Regions from separate parts of the Homo sapiens genome. Here region 1 is linked to region 2. Evidence: fine-mapped expression QTL. A gene starts in region 2. The other region holds a variant in brackets. All regions are shown on one strand. Distances are from middle to middle.

Evidence for each region. PIP is the estimated chance that this variant, and not a neighbour inherited with it, causes the effect.
Region 1: its variant is fine-mapped to the expression of CRK in tibial nerve (GTEx, PIP 0.98). The same link has a PIP of 0.9 or more in esophagus mucosa, subcutaneous fat and sun-exposed skin.

Annotation. Positions count from the first base shown.
Region 1 is chr17:1,416,355-1,424,682 of GRCh38, forward strand. CRK (CRK proto-oncogene, adaptor protein) reads right to left here. Exons shown (of 3, transcript NM_016823.4): 3 at 4,339-7,296. The coding sequence ends at 7,159. CRK-AS1 (CRK antisense RNA 1) reads left to right here and starts at 8,232. Exons shown (of 1, transcript NR_198965.1): 1 at 8,232-8,311. The variant CAAAGGA/C (reference allele first, on the strand shown) is at 4,933.
Region 2 is chr17:1,450,937-1,459,248 of GRCh38, forward strand. CRK (CRK proto-oncogene, adaptor protein) reads right to left here and starts at 5,296. Exons shown (of 3, transcript NM_016823.4): 1 at 4,941-5,296. The coding sequence starts at 5,181. RefSeq lists enhancers at 2,829-3,330, 4,465-5,450 and silencers at 4,715-4,844, 4,955-5,014, 5,105-5,604.

The DNA.
Region 1 (8,328 bases), 35 kb before region 2:
AAAATACGATCAAGAACCTCACTTTGGCCAGGCGTGGTGGCTCAGGCCTGTAATCCCAGCATGTTTGGAGGCCAAGGCAGGTGGATCCTTTGAGACCAGCCTGGGCTACATAGCAACACCCCATCTCTTAAAAAATAGTAATTTTAAAAAACCTCAAAAATTAGCTGGGGATGGTGGTGTGCGCCTGTAGTCCCAGCTGCCTGGAAGGCTGAGAGGTGGGAGGATCGCTTGAGTCCAGGAGGCGGAGGTTTCTGTGAGCTGAGATCACGCCACTGCACTCCAGCCTGGGCAACAGAGTGAGACCCCATCTCAAACAAACAAAAAACAAAAAAAATCACATTCAGCCGGGAATGGCAGCTCACACAGATAATCCCAGCATTTTGGGAGGTTGAGGCAGGAGGATTACTTGAGCCTAGGAGTTCAAGAGCAGCCATAGCAAAACCCTCATCTCTACCAAAAATTAACAAACTAGCCAGGTGTGGTGGTGCGCAACTGTCGTCCCAGCTATTTTGGAGGCATAGGTGGGCAGATTGCTTGAGTCCCGGAGGTCCAGGCTGCGCTGAGTCCGGGTTGCACTGTTGCATCCCAGCCTGGGCAACAGTGAGTTTTGTCTCTCAAAAGAAACAAACAAAGGGCCGGGCATGGTGGCTCACGCCTGTAATCCCAGCACTTTGGGAGGCTGAGGTGGGCAGATCACAAGGTCAGGAGTTCAAGACCAGCCTGGCCAACATGGTGAAACCCCATCTCTACTAAAAATACAAAAAATTAGCCGGACGTGGTGGCACGCACTGGAATCCCAGCTACTTGGGACGCTGAGGCAGAAGAATCGCTTTAACCTGGGAGGTGGAGGTTGTGGTGAGCTGAGATGGCACCATTGCACTCCAGGCTGGACAACAGAGCAAAACTCCACCTCAAAAAAAAAAAAAAAAAAACAACACTCATCACATTCATTCCTTTTTTCTAAGTATCATAGATTTTTTGCGTGTTTGCTTTTTGAAACGGAGTCTGGTTCTGTCGCCCAGGCTGGAGTGTAGTGGTGTGGTCTTGGTTCACTGCAACCTCTGCCTCCCAGGTTCAAGAGAGTCTCCCACCTCAGCCTCCTGAGTAGCTGAGATTACAGGCATCCCCCACCATGCCCGGCTAATTTTATATTATTTATTTATTTTTGAGACAGTATCGCTCTGTTGCCCAGGCCGGAGTGCAATGGTGCGATCTCAGCTTACTGCAACCTCTGCCTCCCCGGTTGAAGTGATTCTCCTGCCTCAGCTTCCCGAGTAGCTGGGATTAAAGGCACCTGCCACCACACCTGGCTTTTTTTTTTTTTTTTTTGAGATGGAGTCTCACTCTGACGTCCAGGCTGGAGTGCAGTGGCGTGGTCTCGGCTCACTGCAAACTCCGTCTCCCAGGTTCAAGCCACTCTGCCTCGGCCTCCGGAGTAGCTGGGACTCAGGCGTCCGCCACTACACCTGGCTAGTTTTTTGTATTTTTAGTAGAGATGGGGTTTCACCGTGTTAGCCAGGATGGTCTCGATCTCCTGACCTCATAATCCACCCGCCTCGGGCTCCCACAGTTCTGGGATGAGGCGTGAGCCACCGCGCCCGGCCTGCTCTGTTTTTGAGCTTCACTTCTAGATGGCTAAAGGTTCTTTTTTGCCTCTACCTTATCTCCCATTTCACAGTCTTCAGAACATGGGTGGCAACAGCACGCCACTTTCTCCGCCTCTCCCTGTCAAACTTAGCAGGGTTAATGGTTATTTTCACATTTTCTTCTATACCGGCCCCCTCTCATCTTTTCATACCTGTAAGAGGAACAGAATTTAACCTGGAAGTCCAGGTCATAAAATACGACAGCTGGTATGAATACTGTAGACTATATAAAAGAACACGCCATTCAACAGGGTTTTTTTTGGTTTTGGGTTTTGTTTCAGACAGGGTCTTACCCTGTCGCTCAGGCTGGAGTGAAGTGGCACAATCTCACTGCACCGTCAGCCTCTTGGGTTCAAGCAACTCTTCTGCCTCAGCGGCCTAAGTGGCTGGGATTACAGGCGCACACCACCACACCCAGCTAATTTTTTTTTGTATTTTTAGTAGAGACAGTGTTTCACCACGTGGGCCAGGCTGGTTTCAAACTCCTGATCTCAAATGATTCCACCACCTAGGCCTCCCAAGTGCGAGGATTACAGGCATAAGCCACTGTACCTGGCCTGCTTTCAGGCCTTTATATGATTCTTATGGTCCCCTCAAATCAGTATTTTATGACTCATACTCATGGAGACCTTTAAAAATATCACCAGGCCAGAGGCCGGGCGCAGTGGCTCACGCCTGTAATTCCAGCACACTGGGAGGCCGAGGCGGGTGGATCACCTGAGGTCAAGAGTTCAAGACCAGCCTAGCCAACATGGTGAAACACCATCTCTACTAAAAATACAAAAATTAGCAGGGCCTGGTGGCGTGCACCTGTAATCCCAGCTATTCGGGAGGCTGAGGCAGGAGAATCGCTTATACCCGGGAGGCAAGGTTGGAGTAAGCTGAGATCACGCCACTGCCCTCCAGCCTGGGGCACAAGAGGAAAATTTTGTCTTGAAAAAAAAAAAAATCACGAGGCCAGGCGCGGTGGCTCACGCCTGTAATCCCAGTACTTTGGGGGGCCAAAGTGGATCACCTGCGGTCAGGAGGTTTGAGACCAGCCTGGCCAAAATGGTGAAACCCCATCTCTACTAAAAATACAAAAATTAGCCAGGTATGGTGGCACGTGCCTGTAATCCCAGCTACTCGGGAGGCTGAGGCAGGAGAATCGCTTGAACACAGGAGACAGAGGTTACAACGAGCTGAGATAGCGCCACTATACTCCAGCCTGCACAACAAGAGTGAAACTCCGTCCCCGCCCCCCACCCTGCGCCCCGCCAAAAAAAAAAAAAAAAAAAAAGGCCGGATACGGTGGCTCATCCCTGTAATCCTAGCACTTTGGGAGGCTGAGGCAGGCGGATCACCTGAGGTTGGGAGTTCCAGACCAGCCTGACCAACATGGAGAAATCCCGTTTCTACTAAAAATTCAAAATTAGCCGGGCATGGTGGCGCATGCCTGTAATCCCAGCTACTCGGGAGGCTGAGGCAGGAGAATTGCTTGAACCCAGGAGGTGGAGGTTGCAGTGAGCCAAGAACGCAGCACTACACTCCAGCCTGGGCAACAAGAGCGAAACTCCATCTCAACAAAAATAAATAAATAAATAATTAAAAAAAAATCTGTGTCTATATATATCACCATTGATTAATCCCATCTTTTTTTTTTTTTTCCCTGAGATGGAGTCTTGCTCTGTCACCCAGGCTGGAGTGCAGTGGCGTGATCTCGGCTAACTACAATCTCCACTTCACAGGTTCAAGTAATTCATCTGCCTCAGCCTCCCGAGTAGCTGGGACTATAGGTGCACGCCACAACGCCTGGCTAATTTTTGTATTTTATTGATTGATTAATTGAGACAGAGTCTCGCTCTGTTGCCCAGGCTGGAGTACGGTGGTGCCATCTTGGATCACTGCAAGCTCTGCCTCCCGGGTTCAAGCGATTCTCCTGCCTCAGCCTCCCGTGCAGCTGGGACTACAGGCGCGTGCCACCACGCCCGGCTAATTTTTCGTATTTTTAGTGGAGACCGGGTTTCACCATGTTAGCCAGGATGGTCTCGATCTCCTGACTTTGTGATCCACCCACCTCAGCCTCCTAAAGTGCTGGGATTACAGGCGTGAGCCATCATGCCCAGCCAGATTTTAGTATTTTTAGTAGAGACGGAGTTTCACTATGTTGGCCAGGCTGGTCTCGAACTCCTGACCTTCTGATCCGCTCGCCTCTGCCTCCCAAGGTGCTGGGATTACAGGCATGAGCCACCACACCCGGCCTAATCCCATCTTTAATAAGCACCCACTGAGCTTGTATAATTGTTTATCTAATTATATGACTGCAGGCTGCTGAAGGCACATACCTCCTATCCCCTAAGCATAAAGATTTACCTCTCGCTGGGTGCGGTGGTGGCTGAAGCCTGTAATCCCAGCACTTTAGGAGGCGGAGGCAGGCGGATCACCCGAGGTCAGGAATTTGAGACCAGCCTGGCTAACATGGTGAAACCCCATTTCTACTAAAAATACAGTAAATTAGCTGGGCGTGGTGGTGCATGCCTGTAACCCCAGCTACTCGGGAGGCAGAGGTAGGAGAATTGCTTGAACGTGGGAGGCGGAAGTTGCAGTGAGCCGAGATCGCATCACTGCACCCCAGCTTAGGTCACAAGAGCGAAACTCTGTCTCAAAAAAAAAAAAAGATTTAGTTCTTTTGTGAAAAATATTCAAAGATTACTTTTTTGCAAAAGATCACCAAGCCAAACATTTGGCCATATTTTTATTTACTACATATACTATAAACATATACAATACATGCTACCAAAAAAAATTTTTTTTTAAATTTAACTGTCAAGAAAGTGTATAGTGTTATAATACAATGGCACATGTTTATATTTTATTTCAAATTGGTTTGCTTATCACCTATTTCAAACCATTAACAGTGAAATGTTACTTGTGGATAATTAAAAATTATCTATTTGCATTATTAACAATAAACAATTCCAACAAATTAATAAGAATTAACCATGTCAAATATTAGTATTCAAAAAATGGGATTTGCAGAAATGATTATATAAAATATAGCAGCCAATTTCAGTTTACTTTGCCAATAGGATTTCAGCATTTGCTTTTTTTTGGAAGACACTTATAAGACATCCTTTGATTTCTTGAGGGGCATTAACTGCCACACTCAACAGTCAAATCCAGCCCAGTGGTTCATGAACGGCCCTGGATCACTGATCACTGAGGAATCCTTAGGACTTGAGTAGCGCTGCCTGTTCCACTGATATTACATATGATGAAAAGAGACATTACAAGCCAATATCAAAGT[CAAAGGA/C]AAAGAAAATAGGAACATTCAAATCAGTTGTGACAAGGTTTTTCTACAAGTATTTTTGATGCCATACTTTCAGGAAAACAAGATTTAATGTGTGTGTGGACTTTACAGTATCTACGTTCTAACTGAAAATTTAACAAAGCAGTCAGATGGAATTACATGTAGTATTACAAATGTGTTCATTCAACACTAATGAGCACCCACTCTGTGCATAGCACTGGGCTACCATTTTACAAGTTGAGTTTAACGTCTTTATCAAGCATGACCTTAGTGTGAGGTAAAATACATTAAATTAGCGTCAACGCGTTAGTCTGCTTGCGGCCATGTACGGAATCCTGGGCCAGCTGGCTTCCCTGTGCCACGTCACCGGTTTCTCAGGTCTCCTCATTCACTCAGACAAATACGTGCACACTGACTGTGTGTCAGACAGTGTGCCGGTCACTCGGACACCACAATCTGGTATAGGTTCAAAGAATGTAAATTTATCATTTTAACCTATGCAGAACAATTAGAAAGGCAGATTATTTTTCCAAAATGAGGTCCAAAGCAAACTATAAGGTGTTTCTATTGGTCATACCACACCAGAGACCGGTAAGTGCCTTTATAGACTGAGAACTAACGTGGAAGTTTCATGCTGTCGTCTAAATAGCCTAGGTCATTTTTGGTCTCATAGGTCTATTTTGTGGAGCACCTGACCCCATATAAATCATTCCATACTTAAATGGGTTTGTAAACTAAACCTGAACATAAACAAAGAGCCAAAAATGAAGGCAGTTTACAATGTAATGTTCTTCAACAGCATTACTCTCCCCATGAGAAATGAATAATACATAAGTAATTCACAATTGGTTCAACATTTTTTTTTCTTTTTTTTTTCCTTTTTTTTTTTTTTGAGACTGAGTCTTGCCCTGTCGCTCAGGCTGGAACGCAGTGGTGCGATCTCGGCTCACTGCAGCCTCCACCTCCCAGGTTGAAGCAATTCTCCTGCCTCAGCCTCCCGAGTAGCTGGGATTACAGGCGTGCACCACCACGCCGGGCTAATTTTTTATATCTTTAGCAGAGATGGGGTTTCACTATGTTGGCCAGGCTGGTCTCGAACTCCTGACCTCATGATCCACCCGCCTCGGCCTCCCAAAGTGCTGGGATTACAGACGTGAGCCACCGCGCCCAGCCGGTTCAACATTTTTTCAAAGCACTAACCCTACCCCAAATTCATGTAATACTAACTTGACTTTTATACAAGTTGCACAGAATGCAGAGGGCAGAATTTGACCCCAAAACCTTCCACAGAATATCAGAGGTGATTGGTCCTTCCACTCTTGAGTAGAACCTAAGAATTCCAAGAGTCTCCTAATAGGATACTGGCCCTCTGGAGAAATGGCCCTGCTGGATCCCATTAGTTAGGACTCTAGTTAGCTGCTGTAGAAGGGTGACCTACTACGACCCTTTTGGGGAAGGCAGAGAGCTGGGAGACTGGCTGTCCACTTAGTGAATCCAACACTGGCTTAAAGCTATGCACTGAATAAAGTGCTCGGTACATCCTGCTTTTCACCTGGAATGAAAATACACACTTATCTTAGGAATTCACCTACTTACAGGTTTGGGGGACAAGAATGTCAAGGGCTAAAAGAATCCCAAGAAAAAGTATGAAGCATTGACTAGGAGGGAACAAATGCTTCTAGTAGTGTTCTTAGAATTCTTAGGATCTGAAATGTCAGAATGAGTCACACGCTGGTCATGCTCCATACAATGAAAGCAATCCTGCTTGATACTATTCACACGGTGCATGATTACTTCACGGGGGTGGAACGGAACAGTCTGTCGCCATTTGATAGTATGGTTCCAGAATGAAAACAAAACCACTGAATAAATCAGGGTAAGCAGTGTGTAACACTCCTTCCTGTCCATCGGTTTTCCACAGGGTGATTTGCACTGCCTGAGAGAAAGGAGGCAAGATACCTATCCCTTCTGATACACACAGGCACGACCACTACCGCCTCCAATTGCCAATTCAGAAGCTAACACACAAGCCCTCCAGTTCGTACCCTGAATATGGTAATTAAGACTAGGAATGGAGCAGTTCAGTCTAAAAAATATCACAGGTAACAGAATGCTTATATAAACTAGACTGCTTTTGACATCTGTAAGAAAATTGTATAGATGGCAGTTGGAAAAAAAAAAAAAAGATTGTTCCCATCTGTCAGCAAAACTGTTGAACTATACTCAGCTGAAGTCCTCATCGGGATTCTGTTGATCCAGCAGACGGACATGTGTGAATGGGAAGTGACCTCGTTTGCCATTACACTCCCCTTCCCACTGACCACTCACATTAATCTTCGTAACCTTTACCAGCTCACCGACCTGCAGGAGGAGAATAAGGAGAGCACTTTATTTCCAGGTAGGAATGCAAGCTGAACAACTCCATTCTCTGGTTAGGCACACCCTGCCCATGTGACTGCTCTAGGGATATTACAGAAATGGCCATTTGCTGCCTCCCCAGCCCCAGCCACCAGACTGATTACTTGTGGTTAATGCAGGCAGAAGGAAAAGTGTTTTTAGCAGTGTGGAAAAACAGAGAATACAGAAAGTAAAAGGGATTCCAGATAATGATACTTTTTGATTAAAAAAGGAAAGTGATAATTATTGGAAATCTCAGCTGTCTCTGCATGAGCAATCCCAACTTCAGTGAGTTAGCTACTATTCCCTTTCTTTGTACTCACTACCCTCAGCTTTCTGCCTGCTCCGCAGGCCCTGTCCGAGGAGAAGCAGCTTTCTCCGTTTTTTTTTTTTTTTTTTTTTGAGACGGAGTCTCTGTCACCCAGGCTGGATGACAGTGGCGTGATCTCAGCTCACTGCAAGCTCTGCCTCCCAGGTTCGAGCAATTTTCCTGCCACAGCCTCCCGAGTAGCTGGGACTACAGGCGCCTGCCACCGTGCCCAGCTAATTTTTGTATTTTTAGTAGAGATGGAGTTTCACCATCTTGGCCAGGCTGGTCTCGAACTCCTGACCTTGTGATCCACCTGCCTTGGCCTCCCAAAGTGCTTGGATTACAGGCGTGAGCCACTGTGCCTGGCCGCCTTCTCCCCGCTTTAGCATATGGCAGCAGCACAATCCCCCAGCCCACTCGCACAAGACCTGGCCTGTTACTGCTTGCACAGCAGAAAGCGATCATGGCAAGCATAGGTCACTTGGTCCTAGAGAATCAAGTGTTCCTATCACCTCCTGACCCAGGCAAGCCTTTTCCCATATGGGCAGGTAGAGGCCAAAACTCCAGGTCCAATTAGCTCCCAGAAAACCCCCACCTCATTCAGTAAGCTCTACTTCACAAGCCACTGCCTGCCCAGCCCCCAAATCCCACCATCGGACAGACCTTGCTGCTCCCTCAAAGCCGCT
Region 2 (8,312 bases):
AATCCCAGCACTTTAGGAGGCCGAGGCAGGCAGATCACAAGGTCAGGAGATCGAGACCATCCTGGCTAACACGGTGAAACCCCATCTCCACTAAAAATACAAAAAATTAGCCGGGCGTGGTGGCGGGCGCCTGTAGTCCCAGCTACTCGGGAGGCTGAGGTAGGAGAATGGCATGAACCCCACGGGGCGGAGCTTGCAGTGAGCCGAGGTCGTGCCACTATACTCCAGCCTCGGTGACAGAGCGAGAAACTGTCTCAAAAAAAAAAAAAAAAAAAGCAATAACAATTTTAAAAAGCTTCTTCATCATTGACTTTAGATAGCAGATGTGTATTGTCTGAATAATAAAGCCAGTGGCACGATCTCAGCTCACTGCAACCTCTGCCTCCGGGGTTCAAGCGATTCTCGTGCCTTAGCCTCTCCAGCAGCTAGGATTACAGGCGTCCGCCACCACGCCCAGCTAATTTTTGTATTTTTTAGTAGAAACAAGGTTTCACCATGTTGGCCAGGCTGGTCTCGAACTCTTGACCTCAAGTGATCCACCCTCCTTGGCCTCTCAAAGTGCTGGAATTACAGGCATGAGCCACTGCGCCCGGCCTCTTCTTGCCATTCTTTAATTCTGGTCTTTAAAAAACCTGGGCTGGATGCGGCTGTATGTGCCTGTAGTCCCAGCTACTCACAGCCTGAGTCAGAAGGGCTGCCTGCCCCAAAGTTAAGGGCTGTAGTGCACTATGACTGTGCCTGTCAACAGCCACTGCACTCCAGTTTGGGCAACATAGTGGGGGGAAAAAAAAACAAAAAACACAAGGCCGAGGTGGGCGGATCACCTGAGGTCAGGAGTTCGAGACCAGCCTGGCCAACATGGTGAAACCCCGTGTCTACTAAAAATACAAAAAAAAAAATTAGCTGGGCACAGTGGCACATGCCTGTAATCCCAGCTACTCGGGAGGCTGAGGCAGGAGAATCACTTGAACCTGGGAAGCAGAGGTTTCAGTGAGCCGAGACTGCACCACTGCACTGTAGCAGCCCGGGGGGCAAGAGCGAAACTCCATCCAAAAACAACAAAACAAAAAACACCAAGTCTTAGACTCCAGGGCAGAGGCAAAGTATTGAGGATATTGAGGATACGGACCTCTATGTGCACTGCTGAGATGCCAAAAGAACGCTGGCTTTGAGAGTGTAGTGTAAAAGGGTCAGCTCTCAGGTCAGAATGCCTAGGTTCAACTTCTGAAAGTCATTTATTAGTTGTGTGACCTTAAGCAAGTTACTGAATCTATGAGTGTTTCCTCCTGTATAAAATGGGAATATTTTAATAAATGGAGATCATATTACTTATCTCACTAGATTGTCCTAGACAGTAAGTGAAATAAGGTACATAAAGTACTCAAAGTACCTGGCACAGAATAACCAGTCAATAAACATTAGTTATTAATATTCTATACGCCTCTCTAAAAAATTCAAGAAATTTCTCTGTGTGACTTCAAAAGGACTTGGTGAGGGGGAGAACAAAGATTCAGTACTTAGTACTTGAGATTTGTGAGGTACAAAGTAATTCTGAGGTTATACAGACAGGCCAGGCGCTGGTGGCTCACGTCTGTAATCCCAGCACTTTGGGAGGCCGAGGTGGGTGGATGATCAGAGTTCAGCAGTTCGAGACCAGCCTGGCCAACATGGTGAAACCCCATCTCTACTAAAAAAATACAAAAATTAGCTGAGCATGGTGGTGGGCGCCTGTAATTCCAGCTACTCAGGAGGCTGAGGCAGGAGAATTGATTAAACCTAGAAGGCAGAGGTTGCAGTGGGCCAATATCGCGCCATTGCGCTCCAGCGTGGGAGACAAGAGTAAAAACTCGGTCTCAAAAAGAAAAAAAAAAAAAAAGACAGCAACTGACCAGGCACAGTGGCTCACACCTGCAGTTCCAAAACTTTGGGAGCCTGAAGCATGAAGTCTATTGAGATCAGGAATTTGAGACCAGCCTGGACAATACCGTGAGACCCCTCATCTCTACAAAAAAATTTTCAACAGTTAACCAGGCATGGTGGATACGCCTGGAGTCCCAGCTACTCAGGAGGATGAAGTGGGAGGATGGCTTGAGCCCAGGAGGTCAAGGCTGCAGTGAGCTGTGTTCATGCCACTGCACTCCAGCTTGGGTGACAGAGGCTCTGTCTCAGAAGAGAGAAAAAGACAGCAACTGAATCGTAGAAAATGGGGTACAACATGGCAGAAAGAATTATCACAATACTCGTGAATTTTCCACACCCCATCCATAAACTTTGGCAATCTTCACCGTCTTTCCTCAGCCAAGGAACTGAGTTCTTATCTGTTTTGAAAAGGTGGTGCTCGATTATCACGGTAAGTGTTGAGACATAAAATCGTTATGCTAAGATATGAAAAAATATCAAACTAACAAACCTGCCTGCTGCCATTTTCAACTTTGGCAACCAACAAACACAAACAAAAGGCTGAAAAGTGAGTTTCAATGACAGTTTGCCATCATGTGACGACATATAATGCAAAACCCCAGATACTATGCAGGTGGCATCAAAGTAGAATATATCTGGTTCAGGGCCAACACAGGTACATCAATATTCCCATCTCATAATACTATTAAACAGGCCACAATGAGAAAGATCTAGGATAATTTGTGAGCTTATAGACCCCATACTCATTTTTAAAAAATGGTTGTGTTAGACTGGGTGTGGTGGCTCACGCCTGTAATCCCAACACTTTGGGAGTCTGAGGTGGGCAGATCACCTGAGGTCAGGAGTTCGAGACCAGCCTGGTCAACTTGGCGAAACCCCAACCCTACTAAAAATACAAAAACTAGCCAGGCGTAGTGGAGTGTGCCTGTAATCCCAGCTACTAGGGAGGCTGAGACAGGAGAATCCTTTGAACCCGGGGAGGTAGAGATTGCAGTGAGCTGAGATTGCACCATCGCACTCCAGCCTGGGCAACAAAAGCGAAACTCCGCCTCAAACAAACAAAGCTGGGTGCGGTGGCCCACGCCTGTAATCCCAGCATTTTGGGAGGCAAAGGCGAGTGGATCACCTGAGATCAGGAGTTCAAGACCAATCTGGCCAACCTGGTAAAACCCCATCTCTACTAAAAATACAAAAAATTAGCTGGGCGTGGTGGTGATGCACACCAGCAATCCCAGCTACTCAGGAGGCTGAGGCAGAATCACTTGAACCCAAAAGGCAAAGGTTGCAGTGAGCCAAGATCGCGCCACTGCACTCCAGCCTGGGCGACAGAGAGACTCCGTCTCAAAATAAATAAATAAGTAAGAAATAAATAAGAAAAATTTTAAAAAAATTAGTATGTGTTGGCCAGGCGCGGTGGCTCTTGCCTGTAATCCCAGCACTTTGGGAGGCCGAGGCTGGTGGATCACCTGAGGTCAGGAGTTCGAGACCAGCCTGGCCAACCTGGTGAAACTTCGTCTCTACGAAAAATACAACATTAGCTGGTTATGGTGGCGGGTGCCTGTAATCCCAGCTACTTGGGAGACTGAGACAGGAGAATCGCCGTGAGCCGAGATTGCGCCACTGTGCTCCAGCGTGGGTGACAGAGCAAGACTCCGTCTTAGAAAAGAGTAAAATAAAAATTGGTGTGTGTTAACAAAGAGACTGCCTATCCAATTCTCTATTTCTGGCCGGAGCGAGTAAATCTAAATTAGAACTATTCTACAAGGGCAAGTCTACAAAGGACGGCTCAAGAGCTTCCTGATTCATATGAGACTAGTCTGAACCCATTCTCAGCTGGCCAAGAAGAAACTGCTTCGACTTGGCAACAGCGTGAAGGCACGAGGACTCCTGATGCTGTTACACAGGTACACATACAATGAGAACCCCAGAATTACTTTGTACCTCACAAATCTCCAGTACTAAGGGCATCTATCTATTCCCTTAAAACAGTCCCAAATCAACTCCAACGGCATCGGTAAGACAGTCAATCTCAGGGATCCCTCCCTGGCAAGGAAAACCCAGCGCAGGTAATTTATGTTCTTGGCGTAGAGTCTGTTCCCAATATCCAGGAAGACTCAGCCCGCAGCCCCATCTTACTGAGCAAGGTGACGCCCTGAAGTACACACCGACAATGTTTAAGTCCAAGGAAAATGAAGTTCCAGTCACTTACAGGGAAGGGTCTGTTTCCATTGCCTCACTTCTGGTTTATTTTGTGGAATAAAATGTCTTTCCTCCACTAAACACTTTGAAAACCAGAACTCTCTAACGGCGGACAGTCTTCTGGACGCTTAGATCTCTTGCACATAGCCAGGCATCGCCTTAAACTGGGTTGGGCTGGTCACTGAAGGCTTTCTGCTACCACTATTTCTTCTAGCACTTAGTTCACCACCTTCGTCCTCCACGGGGGAAGAGAACGGTACAAAGATTTTGGAAAAATGCCCAAGAAAGGAAAAAATTGACCGGTTTCCTGAGGGTGTCTCCATCCCTCCCGGCCAGTATGTGGTGACTTCCTACCAAAGGCCACCAGGGGAGCACGGCCAAACCCGGCTCTCCAACACGGCAGGAAACGTTTCCAGCCTAAAAGCCACTTGTAGGATTATCGGATTCATTCTGGGCGCCGCTGCCAAGTGATGCCCCCGCAGTGCCAACATCTCCCTCAGCTCTTTGTCCCCACGTTGCCTTGCCCTGCCCTACCCTTGCGCCTGGCCCGGGAGCCAGCCCCACCCTGGGGCCGAAGCAGTTCCCCTTCCCCGCGGCTGCCCTCCCCAGGCACACCCCGGGGCCTCGGTCCGCGGCTCCTCCTCCCCCACACTCCTGCTCCCCGGGTGAGAGCGAGCCCGAGCAGCCGGCGGGCCCCTGCCACGGTCACCCAGCCCTCTGCCCACGACCCCCGAGGGTCCGCTCTCGAGGACCAGCCAGCCAGGCTGGGAGTTCCGCGGCCCTCACCCCGCCCAGGGCCCGCCGTCCCGTCAGTCCCTCACCGGGCGGAGGCTGGGCGGGCGACGGTGGCACCGGCGGGCGCGGGCCGCTGCTGTTGATGATGTAGTGGGAGACGCGCGAGTTCTCTGAGACGCTGAGCACATAGTCCCCGGGGCTGGTGCTCGAGTCCCGCACCAGGAACACCCCGTGCCGCTGGCCCTGCAGCAGCGCCACCGCCTCCTGCCGACTCAACCTCCCCCAGTACCAGCTACTCCGCTCCTCCGAGTCGAAGTTGCCCGCCATGGCTGCCTCCGCGCCTAAACGCTGGGGTGCCGCCGCCGCGCGCGCCCCTCCGGCCCCCGGCGCCCGCCGCCCAGCGGACCGGCTCCGGTTTCAGCTTCACAGCAGCGCCCGAAATGGCGGCGGCAGCCGCGGGCCTCCCCCTCCGGAAATGACGCGCTCCCTGCCCGAGGGAGGCTGCCGGGAAGGGGCCCGCGGCCCGCCATTGGGAGAAGGGCAAGGCGCCCTCGCGCGCGCACTGCGCATGCGGATTCATGGGCGGTGCCGCCCTTCCCGGGCCCGGGCTGCGGGGGATGGGAGGCGGGGTCTAGGGCCCGAGGGGCGGGGCCTCGCAGCCTCCCGCAGAGACGCGCGCCTGCGCTGCGGACAGAGCGGTGCTTCTCGTCTGGGCCCCGGTTCCTGGACGACCTGGGACTTCTAGGCAGCGACTCCCAGACAGAATTGGAGGAGAAAAGATGCGTGTGGCCCTGGGGCCTGAGTTCTCGGCCAGGCTTCCTGCGATATCAGTCTGTTTCTTTTTTCTTTTTCTTTTTGAGACGGAGTCTTGTTCTGTCGCCCACGCTGGAGTGCAATGGCGCGATCTCGGCTCACTGCTCCCGGGTTCAAGCGATTCTCCTGCGTCAGCCTCCCGAGTAGCTGAGACTACAGGCGTGAGCCACCGCGCCCGGCTGTTTTTTGTATTTTTAGTAGAGACGGGGGTTTCACCATGTCGGCCAGGATGGTCTCAATCTCCTGACCTCAGGTGATCCGCCCGCCTCGGCCTCCCAAAGTGCTGGGATTACAGGCGAGAAACATCGCGCCCGGCCACGTCGGTCCGTTTCTGCTCGTTCCTCTAGCTTCTCCACAGACCAGCTGACGTTCTCATTTTCATTGATTCACCTAGGACATTGTTGTTGACACTCCACTTGCACTGCGGGTGCAAAGGTTATCATGGCTGGGCCCTGCACTCCTCGAACTCACAGACCAGTGAGAGGAACCAGGAAACTGGATGACAAAAGGATGACAAATGCTGACAAACGCTATCATGGGAAACGGACATGAACACAGAGCAGAGCCCCCACAGCCAGTCTATGGAGTAATCCAGGAGGGCTTCCCAGAGGAGGCAGCATGTGTTGACTGCTGAATGACAAATGGGGAAGGACATTCTTTCTTTTTTTTTTTTTTTTTTTTTTGAGATGGAGTCTCGCTCTGTCGCCCAGGCTGGAGTGCCTGGGCGTGATCTCGGCTCACTGCAAGCTCCGCCTCCCGGGTTCACGCCATTCTCCTGCCTCAGCCTCCCGAGTTGCTGGGACTGCAGGCACCCGCCACCACGCCCGGCTAACTTTTTGTATTTTTAGTAGAGATGGGGTTTCACCGTGTTAGCCAGGCTGGTCTCGATCTCCTGACCTTGAGATCCGCCCACCTCGGCCTCCCAAAGTGCTGGGATTACAGGCGTGAGCCACCGCACTCGGCGGGGAAGGACATTCAAAGCAAAGGGAGCAGAGTGTACCAAGCCACGTGAAGTACAGAGTTCTCTTCTCTTTTGAGGCTTTGGGGTCACCTGCCCAGATAATTCTAAACACTAAATTGTAGCCAGGGGCATCTCCTACTCTCACTGCCCTCATGATTGCCTCTGGACTGTGTTCCTACGAGTGTCGTGCTCGCTGGTGCTCTTTCGTCTGGCTGCCCCTAATCGCACTGCAAACAACTCCCACTGAGTTTTCTAAAATACAGATCTGGCCGGGCGCCGTGGCTCATGCCTGTAATCCCAACACTTTGGGAGGCTGTGGCTGGCAGATCACCTGAGGTCAGAAGTTCGAGACCGGGCTGACCAATATGGTGAAGCCCGGTCTCTACTAAAAATACAAAAATTAGCCAGGTGTGTTAGCGGGCGCCTGTAATCCCAGCTACTCAGGAGGATGAGGCAGGAGAATCGCTTGAACCCAGGAGGCGGAGGTTGCAGTGAGCCGAAATCATGCCACTGCACTCCAGCCTGGGTGACAGAGGGAGATCCTGTCTCAAAAATATATATATATGTATACAAATCTGAATGTGTTGCTACCTTGTGTAAAACTTTTAACAGTCTTCAGGTGTTCAAACTCCCAGTTTAGCTCAGAGCATAAAATTGGGCCACAGTCTCTCTCTCTCTTTTTTTTTTTTTTAGATGGATTCCTGCTCTGTTGCCCAGGCTGGAGTGCAGTGGCGTGATCTCGGCTCACTGCAATCTCCGCCTCCCGGATTCAAGCGATTATCCCTGCCTCAGCCTCCCGAGTAGCTGGGACTACAGGCACCCGCCACCACGCCCGGCTAATGTTTGTATTTTCAGTAGAGACGGGGTTTCACCATATTGGCCAGGCTCATTTTTTTTTAATTAAAAATTTTTTCTGGCCAGGCATAGTGGCTCATGCTTGTAATCCCAGCACTTTGGGAGGCCAGGAGGTCAGGAGTTCGAGACCAGCCTGGCCAACATGGCAAAACCTCATCTCTACTGAAAATACAAAAAATTAGCCGGATGTGCTGGCAGGTGCCTGAAGTCCCAGCTACTCGGGAGGCTGAGACAGGAGAATCACTTGAACCCGGGAGGCAGAGGTTGCAGTGAGGTGAGATCGCGCCATTGCACTCCAGCCTGGGCGACAGAGCGAGACTCCATCTCAAAAAACATTGTTTTTCTTTATAGCCGAGCGTGGTGGCACATCCAGCTATAGTCCCAGCTACTCAGGAACCTGAGGCGGGTGGATCACTTGAGCCCAGGAGTTCGAGGCTGTATTGAGCTATGATCATGCCACAGCACTTCAGCCCAGGTGACAGAGTGAGACCACCTCTCTAAAATAATAATCATCATTTTTTTAAGAGATGAGGTCAGCTGGTCGCTGTGGCTCACGCCAGTAATCCCAGCATTTTGGGAGGCTGAGGCAGGTGGATCACGAGGTCAGGAGATCGACACCATCCTGGCTAACACGGTGAAACGCGGTCTCTACTAAAAATACAAAAAAAATTAGCTGGGCGTGGTGGCGGGCGCCTGTAGTCCCAGCTACTCAGGAGGCTGAGGCAGGAGAATGGGTGAACCCAGGAGGCGGAGCTTGCAGTGAGCTGAGATCGAGCCACTGCACTCCAGCCTGGGCGATAGAGTGAGACTCCGTCTCAGAAAAAAAAAA